Homo sapiens: one gene and its partner. The protein of the gene in region 2 purifies or fractionates together with the protein of the main gene of each other region. This does not show direct contact. Each region holds a gene or a part of one and is shown on either strand. Other genes may lie near its edges.

Region 1 (3,828 bases), about 19 Mb from region 2:
TTCATCATGTTGGCCAGGATGGTCTCGATCTCTTGACCTCATGATCCACCTGCCTCGGCCTCCCAAAGTGCTGGGATTACCGGCATAAGCCACCACGCCAGGCCGACTTGGATTATTTCAGATGAAGTTTACGTAAACTCTAGTATGGAAATATTAAAAAGTTCTGGTAAAAAAAAAGTTTGTATCCTACTGCTCTACAATAAGCCACACACTGAACTTTGACATTCAAACAGAACCAAACTGAATAAGGAGAAGAAACATTTATACCTTTAGTCTTTCTGATAATGGCTTCTCAGAAACTACTTCAAGTACGGAAGTATTTGAATCTTGACTATTCATACGAGCTACTGTGGCACTGCTAATGGTTCTCTGCTTTCCAGCTCTTATTGCAATCACATGTTCAGAGAGTAAGTGATCATGATGCTCATTTGGAGTATCTAACAGGATAAAGACCAAATCAAATCTGGATAGTAGTGCACTCCCCATTCTATGAAGGATGAAAGAAAGAAGAAACAATGATTGGAATCAAAAGGAAAAACTAGAAAACTGTCTACTCACTTATTTACTACTCAAGTTCCACGCAGAACTTGAAAAACCAAGATTTAGGTTAAAGAAATAAGCAAATAGCTTCTTGGATTCGATATATCCAACCACTGCAACATGGGCACAAGAATTACATGTATCTACCCTGGGTAGGTTGAGGACATGGCTCTTTCTCACACCCCCAAACCCACTGAATTCTTCATGTCCTATTATCACTAATTGGCAATACTGCTACATGACATATCAGAGGTTAGCTAGTTCAGTATTTTGTTCATGATACCATTAAAAAACAGAATCCAAGTCTGCTGGATTTTTGTTCAATAGATCTTTCTGATTTTTCTAATATAGCACTTTGTCATTTTACTAAAGAAAAACTACTAGTAGGTTGATTTTTTTGGTGGTGGTGGTAAATACCCTAAATCTCCAAGTACACATTGTGTATTTCACTATGTATCAAAGACTGTTTCTATATTGATACATTATTAAACAACAAGAAATTAACTCCACCCCCACTAGGCTTAAGGCTCTAATTTTTCAGGAGGTACTCTTTTGTCTTTTTCTCACTTTTGTATCACTTAAATATATTTTTCCTTTTCCACACATTTTGTCCAAGCTGTACAGAATGAATTAGAAGAGAAAGCATACATACAGATATAAACATTGTTTTTGAAAAAAGCAGGATCATACCACATATTTAAGTTTGTTAATGTGCTCTTCTCACTTAATAGTACAGCACAGACATGTTCCCCCATTAGTACATATAAAGCCACTTTCGTTCTCATAATCACTACAGTCTTATTATAGTTTTAAGGTGTTTCCAATGTTTGGCAGCAATAATGCTGCAATACCCATGCTATAAACCTATCGTTGTGCACTTGTATGACTATTTCTGTGAACAGTAGTCCTAAAAGTAGAGTGGCTATAACAAACAGAATGTGCATTTAGAATTGTGATCAACACACCAAGGGGTCCCACAAAATAATAAATTGTGTATGTGAGAAACAATTTCTTTTTCTTTTTTTTTTGACATGGCGTCTCACTCTGTCACCCAGGCTGGAGTGTGGTGGCACAATCTCGGCTCACTGCAACCTCCACCTCCCAGGTTCAAGCAATTCTCCTGCCTCAGCCTCCCAAGTAGCTGAGATTACAGGCGGCTGCCATCATGCCTGGCTAATTTTTGTATTTTTACTAAAGACGGGGTTTTGCCATGTTGGCCAGGCTGTTCTCAAACTCCTGACTTCAGGTGATCCACCTGCCTCAGCCTCCCAAAGTGCTGGGATTACAGGCATAAGCCACCCGCCCAGCCACTGAGAAACCATTTCCACACTACTTTGCCAAAAATGATTAATATTTAAAATGTTTGCCAATCTGGTGGATCTCATTCGTACTTCATTGTTTTACTCTGCAGTGTTTAAGCACATTTTTGTGCATTTATTGGACATTTATAACTTCTGTGAAATATCCATGTTTTTCCCCTGTAGTTCTGTGAACTATTTCTTTTTCTTATTGAATTAAAGTGATTCAATACATTAAAGGTATAAATATTTGAAGAGACTTACTTTAAATTCTCAGAAACTGTTTTGGCTTTATTGTAATGTCCTCCAACTGGATTTGCAGCAGCAATAATGGAAGTTCTTGCAGGAAGGCTACAAACCACACCAGCCTTAGCAAGACTAATACTTTGCTGCTCCATGGCTTCCAACAAGGCTTGATGTTGATTCCCCATCTTATCAAATTCATCGATTCCACAAATACCTACAATCGAAGTAGAATAAAGCAGAAAAAACATTTTTTCTTTGGTCAAGTTCCAAATTTTATAGGATAGAAATTGTTTCACAATAATTATTTCCATTTGTTTCAGCAGTTAAAATTATAAAATGTCATACAATGGAGAATTACTGTTTGTTCTGCAGCAAGTTAATACATTTGTCTTATTTAACTAAGTTTTGTGTAATAGTTCTTCCTTTAGCATTTTTCATACGCACAGCACTATGTTGTGAGGATTACAAAAACGAAGAGGAGGTAAGAGTAATTCTCAAAATGCTTAAGGAGTTAAATTCAAATGGGTGTGATGTTACATACACACACAAACACACATGCACAATTTAATAAGTATACCTCAATACACATATAGTAAGTTTATTATGTTTAATAAGTATATTTCAAAACCTATACCAGGTATTGACTATACACTTGTATGCACTTATAGGGAAATCACTTAATCTCTTTAAACATAATACAATGCACCACCACTAACTAAAGGCACTGTATGTACCAGGAATGTCATGTCTATTGCATAAGTTATTGGAGATTCTCTAACATTACCTCGTAATGCTTGTCTTCCTTTCTCCCCATACCAGTTAGGTTAGTATCTGGGGGTCACATCTGAAGGGCTTTGCTGTGGTTAAACCCCTCCGTATCTACTCTATACCTAAGTAAGCCTTACTAGCACAGAGGAGTATATGGAAAATAACTGCTGATTAGTCTTTTTGATCCCCAGCTGCTAACCTAACTGGTATGGGGAGCAGGGAAGACAAATATTGTAAACTAATGTTAGAGAGTCCCCAATAACTTGTGCAATAGACATGACATTCCTGGCACATACAGTGCCTTTAGTTTATTTCAACAGATTTTCTTCTATCCTTGAATCCATTTCTGGTTTCATGTTTGGGTTTTCTACTTCATGGAACCAATTATGTTGAATTTCCTTTGTTCTCTATCTCTGTTACTTCCCCTCTAATTGTATTAAGCTTTGTTCTTTTGCATTCACTGCAATTATCTCAAGCCTTTCCTCTTTATAATTTCTCATTCAGCAGTGTCAATTTTATATATTAGTTTAATAACATTGTTAGTCATCAATTTGTCTCTCATAGCCTTATCTTTTTGTTTTGAGCTATTTCATTAATGTTCTTATCAAACATGAAACACTCATGGGAAATTTTCATTTGTTCCTTAGATTATAATTTTGTCTACAGTGAGGTCTTTTACTGGGCATATTAAATGTCTTTCTTTCTTCCTACGTTATTTCTTCACAGCTGCTATGCTGTCTCTTTGCCTTGCTCATGTATAATAACGGCTGCTCTGTCCAAACCTATTTCTTCCGACACAGTATATATGAATTCTTGTCAATACGCTTTTCCCAATGTAATTTTGACCCATTTTTTCCTTTCCAGCTACAGTTTGCACTTTTTGGTAACGTAATGATTTAGGAGGGGGAAGCAAGGGGGGCTTTGTTGAACTTTGTGCCACCTTTCTTGCTGATCTCTTCTGAGAGTTCACCCCCCT
Region 2 (3,828 bases):
TTTCTGAAAACTATAAAACATTGTTAAGAAAACCCAAATGTCCACCAGCTGATGAATGGATATGTGCCCATATGATGGAACATTATTTAACCATAAGTAACAATGAAGTTCTGAAACGTATTGCCATTACCACATGAAAGACAGAAGGCCACATATTGCATGATTCTACTCATATGAAAAACCTGTAATAGGTAAATCTATAGAGACAGAAAGTAGATTCGGGATTTCCAGGAGCTGGGAGGAGGGAAGAAAATATAGAGTAACTATAAAGGGGACAGGGCTTCTTTGTAGGGTGATGAAAATATTCTCAAATAAGAATGTGGTATTGGATGCACAACAACTCTGAATATACTAAAAACCACTGCACTGTACAATTTAAGATGGTAAACTTCACAGTGTATGAATCATATCTCAGTAAATCTGCTATTTTAAAAAAAAAGTTGAAAACAATGAAAGACCTAAATAATACCATATTCACAGATTGGATGATTCAATATTGTAATAACGTCAACAATCTATAGATTCAATTCAATCTCAATCAAAATCTTAACTTTCTTTAAAATGGAACCTGACAAACTGAGTCTAAAATTTACATGGAAGTGCAAAGGGCTAATAGTTGAAATGCTCTCAAAAAAGAACAAGATGGGAACTTGCTCCAACTATACTATATAGTTACAGTAATTACAACAGTGGAATTGGTATAAGAACAGATAGACTAGCATAACAGAAGAAAAAGTCCTCCCATTCAGAATCCACAGGAATACTGACACTCAATGTATGACAAAGGTGGCACCATGCACACAGTGATGGGAGAGGCAGATCTGTTCAATACATGGTGCTGGGTCATCTCAATATCTATATTCAAAATGAAGCATGCCTCCTGTAGTATACACAAAACTTAATCCCAATACTGTAGATCTCTTTGTAAAAGGTAAAATATAGCTCCTAAAAGATTACATAGAAAAAAGGCCGGGCACGGTGGCTCACGCCTGTAATCCCAGAACTTTGAGAGGCCGAGGCGGGTGGATCATGAGGTCAGGAGATTGAGACCATCCTGGCTAACATGGTGAAACCCCGTCTCTACTAAAAATACAAAAAAATTAGCCAGGCGTGGTGGCGGGCGCCAGTAGTCCCAGCTACTCGGGAGGCTGAGGAAGAAGAATGGCATGAACCCGGGAGGTAGAGCTTGCAGTGAGCTGAGATCATGCCACTGCACTCCAGCCTGGGGGCAACAGAGAGACTCCGTCTCGGAAAAAAAAAAAAAAAAAGAGAGAAGAAAAATATCTTGGGAGGCTGAGGTAGGAGAATGGCTTGAACCCGGGAGGTGGAGCTTGCAGTGAGCCAAGATTGAGCCACTGCACTCCAGCCTGGGCGACAGAGTGAGATGCCGTCTCAAAAAAAAAAAAAAAAAAAAAAAAAAAAAAAAAAGAAAAGAAAAATATCTTAATAACCTTAATAACCTCTGGGTAGGCCAGGCACGGTGGCTCACTCCTGTAATCCCAGCTTTGGGAGACCAAGGTGGGCATATCTCTTGAGGCCAGGAGTTCAAGACCAGCCTGGTGAACATGGTGAAACCCCACCTCCACTAATAATACAAAAATTAGCCGGGCATGGTGGCACACACCTGTAGTCCCAGCTACTCCAGAGGCTGAAGCAGGAGGATTGCTTGAACCAGGGAGGCGGAGGTTGCAGTGAGCCGAGCTATGCCACTGCACTCCAGCCTGTGCGACAGAGTCAAACTGTCTCTCAAAAAAAACAAAAAAAAAACCAGAAATACTATTCAGCATTAAAAAGGAATAAGCTCGGCCAGGTGTGGTGGCTCACACCTGTAATCCCAGCACTTTGGGAGGCTGGGGCAGGTGGACCACCTGAGGTCGGGAGTTCAAGACCAGCCTGACCAACATGGAGAAACCCATCTCTGCTAAAAATACAAAAAATTAGCCAGGCGTGGTGGTGCATGCCTGTAATCCCAGATAGCTGGGAGGCTGAGGCAAGAGAATCGCTTGAACCCGGGAGGCGGGGGTTGCGGTCAGCCAAGATCACGCCACAGCACTCCAGCCTGGGCAACAAGAGCAAAAAACTCCGTCTAAACAAAATAAAAAACAAGGAATGAGCTCTTGCTAATATATCAACAGATTAGAATCTCAAAAATATTACATTTAGTGAAAGTCATCAATCATTAAAGGATACTGCATGAATCTATATAAAGTTCAAAAAATGGGCAACACTAAATTATAGTGTTTAGAAATGCATGCTTAGGTGGTAAATGGCAAGTTTTTTTGTTGCTGTTTTAAGACAGGGTCTCACTGTCACCCAGGCTGGAGTGCAGTGGCGCAATCTCAGCTTACTACAACCTCTACCTCCAAAGCTCAAGTGATCCTCCCACCTCAGCCTTCTGAGTAGCTGGGACCACAGGCGCATGCCACCACACTTAGCTAAGTTTTTTTTTGTTTTTTTTTTTCTTTTTTTGGTAGAGATAGGGTTTCACCCTGTTGCTCAGGCTGGTCTCAAACTCGTGAGCTCAGGCAATCCATCCACCTTGGCCTCTCAAAGTGCTGGGGTTGCGGGTGTGAGCCACTGCATCCAGAGCAATAAGATTTTTAAAAATAAGGAAGTGATTAGTCTGCACAAAAGTCAGGAGGGTAGTGATCACTGGGAGGAGGGACACAAAGGTTCCGGAGCAATGTTCTTTCTTGAACAGGGTGATGGATACATGGGAATTCCTCAGTGACACATCATTGGGCTGTACATCTTCGTTTTCTGCACCTTTTCAGATGTGTTTGCATGTGCCTGTTTTTATGTTAGATTTCACAATGCAAATGGTTAAATTAAGTGATTTTAAAAGATTTAAAAGGTATGTATGCCAAGGTGGTAAAAACTGCATTGTTTTTTATAATATAAAGGATAAAAAATGATATTTTGTATTGATAAGTATGAAGAAAAGTTCTCTGAGAGAGATCTTGCCAAATGAGTCAAACATGGGTGTTTCCACTGTGGTCTTTTCTACTTTGTCTCCACTGAGAAGAGTGTAACAGACCCCAAAGAGAAGATGAAGTGGAAGAAAAATCAGAAGCTGTTTTGACAATGAGGGTGTTACCCTCATTCAGTCTCATTCACAGATAAAAGGGAAATGTAGAATAAGCACGTTACTTCCACAAAAGAACATACTGATATAGTCACAAATTTTTTAGTTTTCCTTATGGAAAAATATTAATAGGAAAGAAAAAAATACCTATTTTCACTATCTCTCATGTTAGTGGCTTAAAGATTCTAAACAGAAACTTAGGAAATCAAAAAACAAAAGATGTTACTATTTTAAAAACATAAAAGATGTTACTACTTTGAAAACAAAAGATGTTATTATTTTAAAAACATAAAGGATGTTACTACTTTGAAAACAAAAGATGTTACTACTTTGAAATCAGATAATAAGATTTTTACTTATCATCAGTGTGCTTTCATATTCTTTCAATGGTGTTTTCTCTAAACATTAACACATGATCATCTGTTTCATGTTAGTAACCTTATTTTAGCTCTGCTTTTACTTTTATTGCTAGCCTGAGTCAACAATATTGAAATCATCACTCCCAGTAATAAAGTGCTTACTATATACCAGGAATTTGCTAAAATTTTAATATGCATTATTTTCTCTTTTTCATTGCCCCATGATGTAACTACTATTATTATTTTCTTTTTATTCATGAAGGACTGAAGCTTTGAGAGATTAGATAATTTACCAAAGGGCTCAGAGTTAACAAGGCAGGGATCTGAATTTAGGTGGCAGACTCAAGCCCATGTGCTTCAGTCACCCATTGAAGCACTATCCTT

Evidence for each region.
Region 1: the proteins of GINS1 (region 2) and MCM8 purify together in Homo sapiens (co-immunoprecipitation; one study listed by IntAct). This does not show direct contact.

Annotation. Positions count from the first base shown.
Region 1 is NC_000020.11:5,981,440-5,985,267, reverse strand, and holds part of MCM8 (DNA helicase MCM8), read right to left. Parts: intron 2,299-3,828; coding exon 2,103-2,298; intron 488-2,102; coding exon 268-487; intron 1-267. UniProt on the Homo sapiens protein: Component of the MCM8-MCM9 complex, a complex involved in the repair of double-stranded DNA breaks (DBSs) and DNA interstrand cross-links (ICLs) by homologous recombination (HR).
Region 2 is NC_000020.11:25,421,053-25,424,880, reverse strand, and holds part of GINS1 (DNA replication complex GINS protein PSF1), read right to left. Parts: intron 1-3,828. UniProt on the Homo sapiens protein: Required for correct functioning of the GINS complex, a complex that plays an essential role in the initiation of DNA replication, and progression of DNA replication forks.